2 linked regions of the Homo sapiens genome follow. The protein of the gene in region 1 purifies or fractionates together with the protein of each later gene. This does not show direct contact. Each region holds a gene or a part of one and is shown in the gene's direction. Other genes may lie near its edges.

Region 1 (7,301 bases):
GGCCCCGGCTTGCTCCAGGGCGGAAACCAGAGTCCAGGCAACGAAGCAGCGTCGACCCTCTGATCTCCAAAGCCCACCCCTCTGAGCCCCAGGCCCCGCCCCGCCAGCGGTCACCACCAAGCCCCGCCCCCAGCAGTCCCCCGCTCCTGCAAGACCGGCCTCCAGCCGGTACTGTTTCCTCCTGCGCTCTCCTCCGGTTTTCCTCCCTACTGGGCAGCGCAGGGGACAAACCTTTGTAAAGGCGTTTCCTCAGGGCCCCACGTGGCCACTGTTGCAGGCACGTGGGCAGCCGGCTAGCGGCGGCACCAGTGCGGTTCCGGGTCAGGGGACTGACTAGCCGGCGGGCCGCGCGCGCTCCCAGCGTCCCTGCTCCGCTGATGCGAAGGCGGATATATAATCTCCAGGGCCGGGATTCTTTCCCCACCGGACCTCTCTTCTCCAGCACCAATACCCACCAAAAAAAAAAAAAAAAAAACAAACAGCAAAAAAATAAATAAATCTGAGATCCTTTGGAGAAAAGGCTGCAGACAGCCCCTCCTCCTGGGAGCTGAAGCGGGATCCTAAATTTGCATACACCCCTAATCAGTTCACTCCTTCCTCCCCAGCCTCAAGACTCCCCCTTTCTAATTCGCCTGCTATTAATCTGGAGGCTGACAGATAAGTCTCTTGATTTTGAGGGGTCTTCCCTAAAAAGGCGAATTCTCACATATAGCGCAAAGTCACACTTCCTTCCAGTTCTTCCCTTGCTTCCCCCACCCCCATCCTCCTGCCATCCAAAACCCTGCTTAGGCAGATGAAACCAAGAGATAGTAACAGTGTTGGTATGGGAAGAGGATTGGCACACACCCGCGACAGAGTTTGAAACAGTCATCTGGGGGAACTCACATAGAAAATAGAAATCTCAGCTATTCTAGGCGAGGTCCTGCCTAGAATACTGTTGAACAGTGTCTCCTTAGTTTCTTCCTACCTCAATCAACTTTGTTCTTGAAAAGTTTTTTTTTTTTTTTTTTTTTTGCCGGGCGCGGCGACTCACACCTGTAATCCCAGCACTTTGGGAGGCCGAGGCGGTCGGATCACAAGGTCAGGAGTTCCAGACCAGCCTGGCCAACATAGTTAAACCCCATCTCTACTAAAAATACAAAAATTAGCTGGGCGTGGGGGCACGCGCCTGTAGTCTCAGCTACTAGGGAGGCTGAAGCAGGAGAATCGCTTGAACCCGGGAGGCGGAGGTTGCGGTGAGCCGAGATGGGACCACTGCACTCCAGCCTGGGCGACAGGGCGAGACTCTATCTCAAAAAATAAAAAAAAATAAAAAATAAAAAAGGTGCTGGGCACAGTGGCTCACCCCTGTAATCCCAGCACTTTGGAAGGCCAGGGTGGGTGGATCACCTGAGGTCAGGAGTTGGAGACTAGTCTGACCAACGTGGAGAAACCAAACCGTGTCTCTACTAAAAACACAAAATTAGCTGGGTGTGGTGGCACATGCCTGTAATCCCAGCTACTCAGGAGGCTGAGAGAGGTGAATCGCTTGAGCCCAGGACGTGGAGGCTGTGGTGAGCCAAGATTGTGCCATTGCATTCCAGCTTGGGCAACAAGACAGAAATTCCGTCTCCAAAAAAAAAAAAAGGTGTAAAGGAGGGAAGCTGGATATAAATCTTCGTTTATTGCCTTTGTAGTGAACAGAATTTTTATTCCTATTACAATGATTATACCAATACCTCCAACACCAGGAAGTTTTTTTTTTTTTGAGACGGAGTCTCGCTCTGTCCCCCAGGATGGAGTGCAGTGGCGCGATCTCAGCTCACTGCAACCTCTGCCTCCTGGGTTCACGCCATTCTCCTGCCTCAGCCTCCCAAGTAGCTGGCACTACAGGCACCCACCACCACACCTGGCTAATTTTTAGTATTTTTAGTAGAGACGGGGTTTCACCATGTTAGCCAGGATGGTCTTGATCTCATGACCTCGTGATCCGCCCGCCTCGGTCTCCCAAAGTGCTGGGATTACAGGCGTGAGCCACTGTGCCCGGACAATACCAGGAAGTTTTTAATTGCCGAAGAGAAAGCCTACATTGTTTACCGAGTCTTTGAGGTTTGCCCTCAACCTTAAGCAGCCTACTCCCACACTCCGCTTTGTAATATTTCTGACCTATACATTCCTTGAAATCACCAAGTTCTCTCCTCTTAGGGGTCCTGGCCCGTGCAGTTCCCTCTGCCTGGAACATGGCCACTCTTTTTCCTTGCCAATCCTTCAGGTCTCAGTAGAGATTTTTCACTTCCTCCAAGAAGGCCTTTCCTAATGGCTCCTAGAAGTCTTATATGAAAACCTATAATCACGATTCCATATAAAAAGTGGAAAACTGGAATGGCAATTATGTATGATTTATTATGGGGGCCAGAACAAGGATGAGAGGCATGAAAGTTCTCTGAGGCCGGCCACATGGCTCACGCCCGTAATCCCAGCACTTTGAGAGGCCAGCCGAGGCGGGAAGATTGCTTGAGCCCAGGAGTTTGAGACCAGCCTGGCCAACATGGTGAAACCCCATCTGTACTAAAAGTACAAAAATTAGCCGGGCATGGTGGCTCGTGCCTGTAATTCCAGCTACTCCGGAAGCTGAGGCAGGAGAATCGCTTGAACCTGGGAGGTGCGGGTTGCAGTGAGCCAAGATGGCGCCACTGCACTCCAGTCTGGGTGACAGAGCGAGGCTCTATCTCAAAAAAAAAAAAAAAAAAGTTCTCTGAAAAAGCACACTATGAAGGAGCAGAATTTTTATTCCTATTATAATGAGTGTATCAATACTTCCAACACCAGGAAGTTTATGTTTCTTGGAGGGCAAGGAAATACTTTTGAACTTTGTTCAGGTTAAGCCGCGCCAAGACTGGCCCTTTGCTTCCCTCTGGACTAGAGAAAGGTCAACCTGTTTCTTATACATGAAGCGAGGATCCAAAATTTCTATAGTGAGCGGTGGGTGGGTTAGCGACAGCCATTGGTGGTAGTAGGGCTTGAAAATGCACGCTCATAGTCCTTTGCATAAGATTAAGAAAACGACTGTTTTGTACATCAGACGGACATTCAAGGGCAGGGGCGCAAAACCCCTCCTCCAAGCCCCTTTTTGTCACTATCCGCTGCTCCTCATTCCTGCCTTTTGCCTGGCTTTCTGGGAGAGAGGGCAAAAAGGGAGAAGGGGAAGTGTCTTGACTTCTAAGAGTGATGGGTGACTAAGGGGGAACTACCATTTATTAAAGACCTAGTACATGCCATGCACTTATACCCGTTACCGCATTTAAACCTCCTAACTATGAGGTAGGTATTATTATGTAACAGAGTATAGCAGTAAATAGCACCGTCCTTGGAAATAGGCAGACTGTTTTTGCTAGTTGTGGAACCGTGGACAAGTTTAGTCTAAAACTTAGTTTATGTAAAAGGAGGACATTGATTCCTACCTCAAAGGGCTGTTAGATGCTCAAGAAGTGACAATACAAATGCCTATGAAGAAACAGGATCAGGTAATTTGCTTGCTCAAGGTCAGGTGATTTAGTAAGAGGCTGACCTCGGATTCTGGTTCCAGCTTATCTAACTCCACAGCCAATGTTCTTTCCACTATCACTCAGTAGTTATAATCATCTTTTTTTGTTTGTTTGTTTGTTTTGAGACAGAGTCTCGCTCTGTTGCCCAGGCTAGAGTGCAGTGGCACAATCTTGGCTCAGTGCAACCTCCGCCTTCCAGGTTCAAGAGATCCTCCAGCCTCAGTCCCCCTAGTAGCTGGGATTACAGGCACGCGCCACCGTACCCGGCTAATTTTTGTATTTTTAGTAGAGACGGGGTTTCACCATGTTGGCCAGGCTGGTCTCGAACCCCTGACCTCAGGTGATCCACCCGCCTCGGCCTCCCAAAGTGCTGGGATTACAGGCGTGAGCCACCGCTCCCAGCCTTATAATCATCTTGTCCAAGTATCGTTAAGTCCTCTGAGGCTCTGATTCCTCATATGCAAAATGGGGTTAACATATTTTATAAAATTCATTCATTAAACTCTTGTGTGGAAGGTGTGCATATAATGGAGACTGCAGCTCCCTCCTCTTTCCCCTTTTCATTCCACGTAGGTCATTTATCCTTAACTTCTAAAATGGACTCTACAAGCACTTAACCGAGCGGACGCAGCTATACAAATACTTTTCAGATTCCCCTTTATTTCCTCTTCTTTCCCACTCCACCTAGGATCCCGCCCCAACCAGCGCCAGGCCACGCCCCGGCGTGTGACGCAAGCACGCTCCGTGCGCGCCGTCGCGTCGCGGCGCTCACTGGGGGCCCGGCTTTCGCCCGCTGCTGCCGCCGCCGCCGCCGGCCGCGGCTGCACTCCCAAGATGGCGGCTCCTCCGGGCGAGTACTTCAGCGTTGGGAGCCAGGTGTCGTGCCGGACGTGCCAGGAGCAGCGGCTGCAGGGCGAGGTGGTAGCCTTTGACTACCAATCCAAAATGCTGGCTTTAAGTATCCTTCCCTGCGTGAAGCCCGAGTCCGGGCCGGCGTGTAGGTGCGGTGGTCGGGGGGTGGGGGACGACGGCGGCGGCTGGGGCTCTCTCCGGGCCTAGGGGCGACCGGCTACCGCGGCGCCCGGGGCGCATGCGCACGGCCCTGAGCTCCCCTCCCCCTCCCGCGGGCCCTTCGGTCAGCTTTGGGGATCCTGTCTCTCTCTCTTTGCGGGAGCTGGGGCTTTACCGAGGATCAGTGGGTGGAGGAGGGCTTGACACGGGGATGGCTTTTTGGGGGGAACGTTATGAGAGGGGACACAGTAATTAGGAGAGGGGGTGGTGGTGGGAGGGGGCTGATGGATTGGAGCCCGGATGGAAAGGAGGGGCGGGTGAAATATTATGGGGAGGGGTGTTTAGGGTAAGGAACTGCTGGTAGGGCAAAGGTATGGAATTTAGGAGGGCATGTGCACTGATGGGATTTCGTCCAAGGAAGGGCGGTGGGATGGTGACCAAATTGGTCCTTGCCTGTTTTGGGGGAGAGTAAGTTCAGGGCAGAGTTTGTATCTGAGCTAGGGATAGTGGCTTGTTTCGCTGATGCGTGTGTATGTGTGGTGGGGGGGCTGTGCTGATTTTTAGGCTTCTCGGTCATTTGGAAGTTGCTGTTTAGGGGATGTTTGCACTGGAAACCTGTTCCAGAGAGGGCTTGCCAGGGGCTTATGTGGTTTGGGGATGTGTGAGTTACAGGTGAAAGAGTGAAGTTCTCATGCTGCCTTGATCAGTCCAGCACATGGAGTCCTTTTACGTAGTAGCAGCCTCCCTTTTGAAAGTAGCAATGTTAAACTGATTGGAAAAGGTGGCCTGCTTCTTTGGGGTGGAAGTGACTTCTGAATTACTCCAGGAAACTCAGTCTTGGAAATGAAACACTTCCTTGTTGGGATAAATGTGCCACGGCTTCCCTTTTTATGTGAGCCACAGGTGGGTTTATTGGAATTTTTTTTTGGAGGAGTAATTTTTTATGGCATCTTTTTTTTTTTTTTTTTTTTAAGATGGAGTCTCGCTCTGTCGCTAGGATGGAGTGCGGTGGCGCAATCTCGGCTCACTGCAACCTCCGACTCCCTGGTTCGAGCGATTCTCCTGCCTCAGCCTCCGGAGTAGCTGGGATTACGGGCACGCGCCACCACGCCCAGCTAATTTTTGTATATGTTTTTTTTTAACAGAGATGGGGTATCACCATGTTGGCCAGGATGGTCTCGAACTTCTGACCTCGTGATCCGCTGGCTTCAGCCTCCCAAAGTGCTGGGATTACAGGCCTGAGCCACCGCCCGGCTTTTTTTTTTGTTGTGTTTTTTGAGACGGAGTTTCACTCTTATTGCCCAGGCTGGAGTGCAATGGCGTGATTTCGGCTTACTGCAACTTCCGTCTCCCGGATTCAAGCGATTCTTCTGCCTCAGCCTCCCGAGTAGCTGGGATTGCAGGCATACGCCACCGTGCCCGGCTAATTTTTTGTATTTTTAGTAGAGACGGGGTTTCACCGTGTTAGCCAAGATGGTCTCGATCTCCTGACCTCGTGATCCACCCGCCTCGGCCTCCCAGAGTGCTGGGATTACCAGCGTGAGCCACCGCGCGGCCTAAGAATAGTTGCTTTTTTAAAAAAATAAGAGGTTACACCTGGAAGAAATAAGACCTTTTACATTAGTGGTTTAGTTGGAAGGGTCTTGTAACTAGGAATTACTTTTTTTTTTTTTTTTTTGAGACGGAGTCTCGCTCTGTCACCTAGGCTGGAGTGCAGTGGCACCATCTCGGCTCACTGCAACCTCCGCCTCCCGTGTTCAAGTGATTCTCCTGCCTCAGGCTCCAGAGTAGCTGGGATTACAGGCATGTGCCACCACACCCGGCTAATTTTTTTTTTTTTGGTAGTGACGGGGTTTTGCCACTTTGGCCAGGCTGGTCTTGAACTCCTGACCTCAAGTAATCTGCCCGCCTCAGCCTCCCAAAGTGTTGAGATTACAGGCGTGAGCCATCACGTGAGCCTGGCTGAATTACTCAACTTTTACTTGACATACAGTAGGCTCTTAAATGGTTGGAGAATGAGTTTGTGAATGAATGAATGGATTAACTGGCTGGGTCACCTTGGGTGAATTTCCTTTCCAGTGTGTAGTTTTCTCCTCTGCAAAATGGGAAAGCTCACATCTGAAAGAGTAAAAAGAATACTGTGCAGACACAGAGAGTATTATACGAAGAACAGAAAGGTCTAGCTCTTTTGTCTGGCTCATAGGTTCAAGACAAACGCATTAAATCTGCATTATGCCTCTCCATAAAGCCAGTAGAGAGAAAGTGACAGAACTCCTTTGGAAGCTTCCAAGGATTTGGGCAGGAGGAAGGTGACAGGCAGAGATTTCCTGAGGAGAACCGTGATTCTTATAAGGCCCTCATGCTCCTGGCCTGCCTTTTACAAGCCTTGTGTGAATCGTGTTTTCTATGCCCCTTTTGGGATGTGTCAGTGCCTCTGCTTGTCCTATTTTTCCTTAACTTTTTTTTTTCTCACCAGAATGTCCCTCTTCCAGTGGAAAGCCCAACCATGCAGACATCTTGCTCATAAACTTACAGTATGTTTCAGAAGTGGAAATAATTAATGACCGAACAGAAACCCCTCCTCCCCTAGCTTCACTCAATGTTAGTAAGGTAAGGACTCAAGGGCAGATCTGGCTCTCTAAAATGGTGGGAAAGATGAGTCTCATTGAGTCTTAGTGATACATTGTTGTCTATTTTTTATTTTTTAAAATTGACTTAAAATTGTTTGTTCTGATATCTTTTTAAAAAATGTAGGTTTAGTTTTTC
Region 2 (7,027 bases), on another chromosome or scaffold:
GAGCTGAAAGTTACAGCACATAAAGGGAAAGTATATTTTCCTCGACATCACCTAGCAGCATATAGGAGCAATCTGGTCTATCTTTGTATTGTTTTCCAGGCAACAGAAGAACTCCTCGTTGCTCTAAGTGGTTTTTTAAATGGCCCCTCTTCTCCGAGTTAGAATGGAATCTTTACCATGTTTTGAAACTGCCAGAGAGCTGCAGGATTTGAGTTGCCAGAATCAACCTTGCCTTGACTTCAAGGCAGTCTGTAAAGTAGGGGGTTCTTTCCTCAGTATTTCAGAACTCTAAATTGGGTTTCCTTAGCAACTAATGAGAGCATCCTTTAGAATGCACTGTGTGAGGAGTTGGCAAACTCTTCTCAAAGGGACCAGAGAGTGAGTATTTTAGGCTTTGCAGTCCATAGGATTTGTGTTCCGACTATAGAATTCTGCCCTTGTAATGTGAAAGCAGCCATAAACAACATGTAAACAAAGGAGCATGGCTGTGTTGAGCTTGGCTGTGTTTGTGACTTTCTTTACAAAAAACAGGTGGTGGGCTGGACTTGGCCCACAGATTTGCTGACCCCTATCCTAGATTCATTTGTGTAGTCAGTGAATTCAGGACCTCAACTCTCATTTTTCTCCTTTAAATTCCTAAGCAAGCTTATTTCTAATATGGTTGTAACAGGATGAAAACAACTAGGTGAGAATTGGGATGGTTTTAAACATTGTTTGTGTTGAATTGGCTTTTCTTGTGTGGATTTTCCCCTCTGTTTTTCTAGCCTAACTCAGTATGAACAGTTGAAAGCCCATCAGGGAACTGGAGCAGGAATTTCCCCAGTGATCCTCAATTCAGGAGAGGGCAAAGAAGTAGACATTTTACGAATGCTCATCAAGGCCAAAGACGAATACACAAAGGTGAGTGTTTGCCCTTCCTTGTGATACATACACACTTCAGTTCCGCAGTGGGAATATTCTTGTTTAGCAAGACTAGGTACTGTGGATGCTGTTCCTTCCACCAAACAAAATTATATTACAAATAAAAAATCTTTATTTGTAATATAGATTTTTTATAAGCTGAAGAAAACTGTTTGCCTTTAAGTGGGTTAAAAAATAGCCTGAGAAATCAGTAGCCTTCATATATACAATAGCCTTCATGTATACAATAACCTTCATATACACAACTGGTAGTAAGTCTTGTTAGACTTACTGCAAGACCCCAACTTACAGTAGCAACAAATGAATATAAAATTGTTTGCAATAAAATTCACGAGAAATGGGCAAAACCTATATAAAGAAAATGTTTAAAAACTCCTGAAAGGCATAAAAATAGACTCAAACAAATGGAAATATACACCCTGTTGTTGGATAAGAAGATTCAACATAAAGCTCTTAGAAAAAAAATCTCTACATTTAAGGTGACCACTAAATAAATACCACTGGTTTCTTTTCCCCTCCCCTCCCCACTTCTCCCTTACTCTCTGATCTAGACAAGTTGAGTGTAAGGCTCATGGAAAGAAATATGCAAGAAAGAATAGCTGGGAAAATCCTGGCAAAGAAGTGTGATATTAGTAGGGGTTGGAGGTGGGGGAGATGAGTGGGGGGATGGAGCGAGCTCTCCCTGATTTTAAAACATTGAAGTCAACATTTCAAACAGTATGGTGTTGATGGTATTGATACCTAACAGCCCAATAGACCAATGGGACAGATTTAAGATTCTAAGTCTAGGATTAAATCCAATTGTATATGAAATCTAGGATATGATAAAGATGATAATCTCAAGTCAGCTATTTGAGTGAATTCCTAAATAAATGGTGTTGGGGCAACTGGTAGCCATTTGGAAAAATACAAAACTGAGTCTGTACCTTACAGCATACACCAGGATAAATTCCAAATGTATTAGAAATTTAAATGTAAAAATATAATGATTCAAGTACCAGAAGAAAATTTGTATGGATTTCTTTATAATCTAGGAAAAGAGAAATCTTTCAATTATGCCTAAAAACCCAAAAGCAATTAATTAAACTACATAAAAATAAAAAACATTTTACAAGGTTTAAATACAACACAAGCAAATAGAAAGATACAAAAACAACTCAGAAAAAAATTGTTGACACCAGAATGACAGGAAGGTTATTTTATGAAGAGCTCCTAAAAATTAAGAAGTACAAGATTAACACTAGAAAAATGGGCAAAAAATAAAAATTTTTAAAAATTATAGAATTTGGAAACTAGCTGAAATAAATGTATGTAATTGAATATCATATTGTCACATAATTACTTAGAAAAAAAATTAGAGTGACTTCAAAGCCCGCTGCTTGAACTGAACACTCTTAGTGGGTTATATTTTAAGGACAAAAAGAACTGCAAGACATTATAAACTTCATTCATTGGTTTTATTGTTTGTAGTAATGTTGGCATTTTAATTTTTCTACTGTTGGCATTGTAATTTTTCTACTGTTGTGGATATAATAAATATGAAATTAGATAAACGTGGTTGGAACCAAAACCTTAGTGTAAGGGGAAAAAAATCAAATCTAATAAGTTAAAACTACATAAGATTAAGTGGAAATATCAGAATTAGTTCATGTTTTGTTTCTTAGGTATAAAAACAAAAAATAGAGTTTCTCACTCTTGCCCTGAAAGGACATAAAAATAAAAGTGACTAACTCAGTAGCAGTAAGCATCTATATCACCCAGATTGTTGTTTCGAAATATTACTTCCTTCCAGAAGGTGTCAGGGCTCTTCAAAGAAATTTCTGATTCCAGGTCTGGAATAGTAAAACCAATAGGGTCATGTGAAAGGACACAGAAATCAGCTTCAAGGACACTGACCAGAGCACCACATTCTAACATCAACAGGAGTGACTACAATGGATTAAACCACATTGAATGTATAAAAATCTATGAGTTCCTGGTAATGAGAAAGAGAACAAGCAAACCAAACATATAAAACCAAGCAAAATAATTATTAGTTATCCGTTTGAAGGTGCTAAGGCACCAACTCCTTCCTCTGAAAATTGATAATTAATGGGAATGAAATAAGCTTTTATCCTGCCTGCCCTAAAGGGACTATATCTCAGAGTAATCAAACAGCCCTGGTCAATGAGGGAGAGCTGTTCTCTACCAGAGAATTCCAGCTAGTACGTGTGGAGAGAATAATAGAACTTAAAGACACTCTGCTTAAAATAATTGACTCAGGCAGTGATCATCAGTAATATTAATGTTATGGGAAAGGTTGATAGAAACTTGACAGTGGAAGGATCAGGCTGCCTCCTCCTGAACCCCGCTGATTATCATCATTAAAAGTTAGATAACCAGATTCTCTGGCTTCCTAATGTGATAAGATGTCAAATGTACAGCACCATCTTGAAATATTCTTGCCCAAAGAGTTGATCCTGAATCTCATTAAGCCTTGAGCTCTAACTTTTTAGTTTACAGAAAGTGAAAGTGGGTGGGGAGTGAGGGGAGACAAGGTAGAAAAACAAATTAAATGATGCTATGAGGAAGCAATCAGAAAAATCCTGAATGAAGTGGCACATATAGGCAGTTAGACAAGTTTCTTTAACATGCTTTGCCTTGACTGTGAGCTTCTTGAGTACGAAGAACATCCTTTATTCACTTTTATATCCCTTATTGTCTTCAAAGTACTTAGCACATGGTGAGTGTTAAATAATGGCTATTGAGTGAAGGAAGGAATATGAATGTGAATGAGCCACAGTTTAATTATCCTTCTATTGTATGGCCTGGACAGAGATGCCTTAATCTCAGCTTCAGACAGTAACTATTCTGTATTCATTTTGTGTTTTTTTAATTCTTCAAAAGTCATTAAAAAAAATTATGATGACTTGGCAACTAGTTGAATAATTAGTTATACTTTATTAATTATACTATATTATGCACACTAAAGATTAATCTTCAAAAGGTGACATTTCTGCCCTCCAGGAACTTAATGTTCTGTGAAGACAGTGTAACAATGGTAAATAAATACAAATATTGAAAAAAATTATTTTCCTTTCTTTCCCTCCCTCCTCTCAACACACACATACCTTGTATTGTTTCTGTTTTTTATCTTCTATATGTTATAATGTTTTGACATCTTAAAATCCTTTCTGGCTGGGGAGACTGCCCCTCCTGTGACCAGCCAGTGTTCAGAGATAGCAAAGGGCTTGGCCAGGAGCACGCCTTTAATATGCACACTAACCAATCCTGAGCCATACGTATCTCCTCGTCTCTGGCCTGTACAATATTCCTCTGCCTTAATCATCCCAGGGCCAGGTACCCAGCAACTGGGGACCACTCATACAGTTTAGAGCCTGCTGGAGTTATTCAAACTGGCCAATCTTAACCTGTTTACCATGCCCTGCCTTGCCTTCCTTGAGGAAATTCAGTAAATGCTCTAGCCTACGCCTTCCCCTTGCTGCTGACACCCTGAGGCTTCCACACGTGGCCCTGTGCAGCGTGGCATGCCTCTTGTCTCCAGGACCTGTGAGTATAATAAACTTTGTTTTCCTGAGACTCTCCTGTGTCTCCTCTCTGGCCTCACTTGAGTGACCATCACATAAAAGAACAGCACAAGCACACACATTCTCTGTCTCTCTCAGAAACACTCATATACGGTTCTGGAGATTTAATTTAGGCCATCACTTTATACTGTGCCTATGTCTTGGAATATTTTTCCCCTTACTTTATTTACCCTTCAGAATTTACATATCCTTTAAGGCTTAGTAAAAATGACACTTTTTACGTGGAGTTTTCCCAGGTCTCTTCAGTCAAATTAATTATTCTTCCATGTGAACTCAGTCTATTACTATTTAAAACTTATTTTGTTCTTCCTCATTTATTACATTAAGTCAACTTCTCCCAGTACACTGTAAACTGGTTGAAGTTAAAACAATGTTCTGTTCATCTTTATGCCCTCACAGATTTGTTATAATGTTGACATGAAGTGCAGACACTTAATTCGTGTATAGAAGGTGCTTTTCTGTAAAAATCAAATACATGTTGTTTTATGCGTAATGTCAGTTGCTCCAACTGTGAGATAAATAATAGAGGAAATTATTTCTTCTTCCATTAACAGCCAGATGTTGTGATACAGTGTGCCAGGACACCTGCATGATCACGCTACTTTCCTAGTCTCCGTTTTTCTTGGTTTGTCATTGCCCAGTACAGGAACCCTTGGAGTCTTCAAGCCTTCCCTAAGACGGCCTCAGTTTGTTCTTCTAACCCTACTACCCTCTACAAATATTTGAAACTCCTGCCAAACAGAATACTCATTTTGCTTCCTGAGAGTGCTTTCATGACTTTTCTCATACTGTTCCCACCCCTTCTTCACCCATCAAAATATGATCCAGCTTTCAGGGCCTGTTTCAGATGTTCTTTTTCCATCACCTTATTTTTGGCCGGCCTAACTAGGTGTGCATGCACCCTGCTAGCTGCCAGTGCCTTATGTTTGGAAAGAGCATTCCATCGCCTTCTTACATTGTGTTGTCTCTGCACTCACACACAGATATTTCAGAAAATGTGGAGACCCTGAGTAAAGTGGTTCTGAGACAGAAGAAAGGGGGTGAAATGGAAAGGTAGCGAGAGAGAAGGAAAACAGAATGTTCCTTCAGAGTTCTTGTTGGGAAGTGAGTCTCCGTTACTTAAAGTGTTCAAGAAGAGATTGAACAGTTACATATTGGTGATGTGATAAAAGAATTTGGCTTGTGTTGGATAAGTATTAAACTAAAAGACTTCTGAGATGGTTTTCAGTGCTAGACTTACTTTTATTGAAGTTTTCTTTTTAAAATTATTTTCAATGAAAAATTAAAATTGTATATATTTATGTATGGTATACAACATGATATTTTGATATGCATGTATATTATAGGGTGCCTAAATCAAGCTAATTAACACATGTATTACCTCACATATTTATCATTTTTGTGTGGCAAAAATAATTAAAATCTACTCTTTTAGCAACTTTCAGTATACAATATATTAGTACTAACTGTAGTCATCATGATGTACAATAAATCTCCTGAACTTATTCCTCCTGTCTAATTGAAAGTTTGTATCCTTTGACCAACATCTCCAAAATCCTCCTACCCCCAGCCTCCGGCAACTACCAGCCTACTGTGCTTCAGTGGGTTCAGCTTCTCTGGATTTCATGTAGGAGTGAAATCATGCAGTACTTGCCTTTCTGTGCCTGGTTTATTTCACCTAATGTAATGTCCTCCAGGTTCATCCATGTTGTTGCAAATGACAGAATTTCCTTCTTTTTTGAGGCTGAATAGTATTCCATTGTGTTTATACACCACATTTTCTTTATCCATTCATTCATTGATGAACACTTAGGTTTATTCCATATATTGGCTATTGTAATGTTGTGGTGAACACAGGAATGCAGCTATCTCTTCAACATACTGATTTCATTTTCCCTGGATATATACCCAGAAATGGGATTCTTCGATCATGTGGTAGTTCTATTTCTAATTTTTTGAGGAGCCAACATAAATTTTTTTTTTTTTTTTTGAGACGGAGTCTTGCTCTGTCACCCAAGCTGGAGTGCAGTGGAGCAATCTTGGCTCATGGCAAGCTCTACCTCCTGGGTTCACGCCATTCTCCTACCTCAGCCTCCCAAGTAGCTGGGACTACAGGCGCCCTCCACCATGCCCGGATAATTTTTTTGTATTTTTAGTAGAGACGGGGTTTCACCGTGTTAGCCAGGATGGTCTCGATCTGCTGACCTCGTGATCCGCCCGCCTCAGCCTCACAAAGTGCTGGGATTACAGGCGTGAGCCACTGCACCTGGCCCAACATGCTATTTTCCATAATAGCTATGCTAACTAATATTCCCACCAACAGTATACAAGGATTTCCTTTTCTGTACATCCTTGCCACCACTTATGTTTTGCCTTTTTGATGGTAGACATTCTACCAGGTTTGAGGTGATATTTCACTGTGGTTTTAATTTGCATTTCCCTGATGATTAGCGATGTCGAGCATTTTTCACATACCTATTGGCCACATGTATGTCTTCTTTTGAAAAATGTCCACTCAG

What was found. The genes of interacting proteins can lie anywhere in the genome.
Region 2: the proteins of LSM12 (region 1) and DCP1B purify together in Homo sapiens (affinity purification with mass spectrometry; 2 studies listed by BioGRID and IntAct, with this or other methods). This does not show direct contact.

What each region holds. Positions count from the first base shown.
Region 1 is NC_000017.11:44,063,645-44,070,945, reverse strand, and holds the start of LSM12 (protein LSM12), read left to right. Parts: upstream 1-4,274; 5' UTR 4,275-4,358; coding exon 4,359-4,482; intron 4,483-7,011; coding exon 7,012-7,145; intron 7,146-7,301. UniProt on the Homo sapiens protein: Nicotinic acid adenine dinucleotide phosphate (NAADP) binding protein. Confers NAADP sensitivity to the two pore channel complex (TPCs) by acting as TPC accessory protein necessary for NAADP-evoked Ca(2+) release.
Region 2 is NC_000012.12:1,959,431-1,966,457, reverse strand, and holds part of DCP1B (mRNA-decapping enzyme 1B), read left to right. Parts: intron 1-764; coding exon 765-900; intron 901-7,027. UniProt on the Homo sapiens protein: May play a role in the degradation of mRNAs, both in normal mRNA turnover and in nonsense-mediated mRNA decay. May remove the 7-methyl guanine cap structure from mRNA molecules, yielding a 5'-phosphorylated mRNA fragment and 7m-GDP.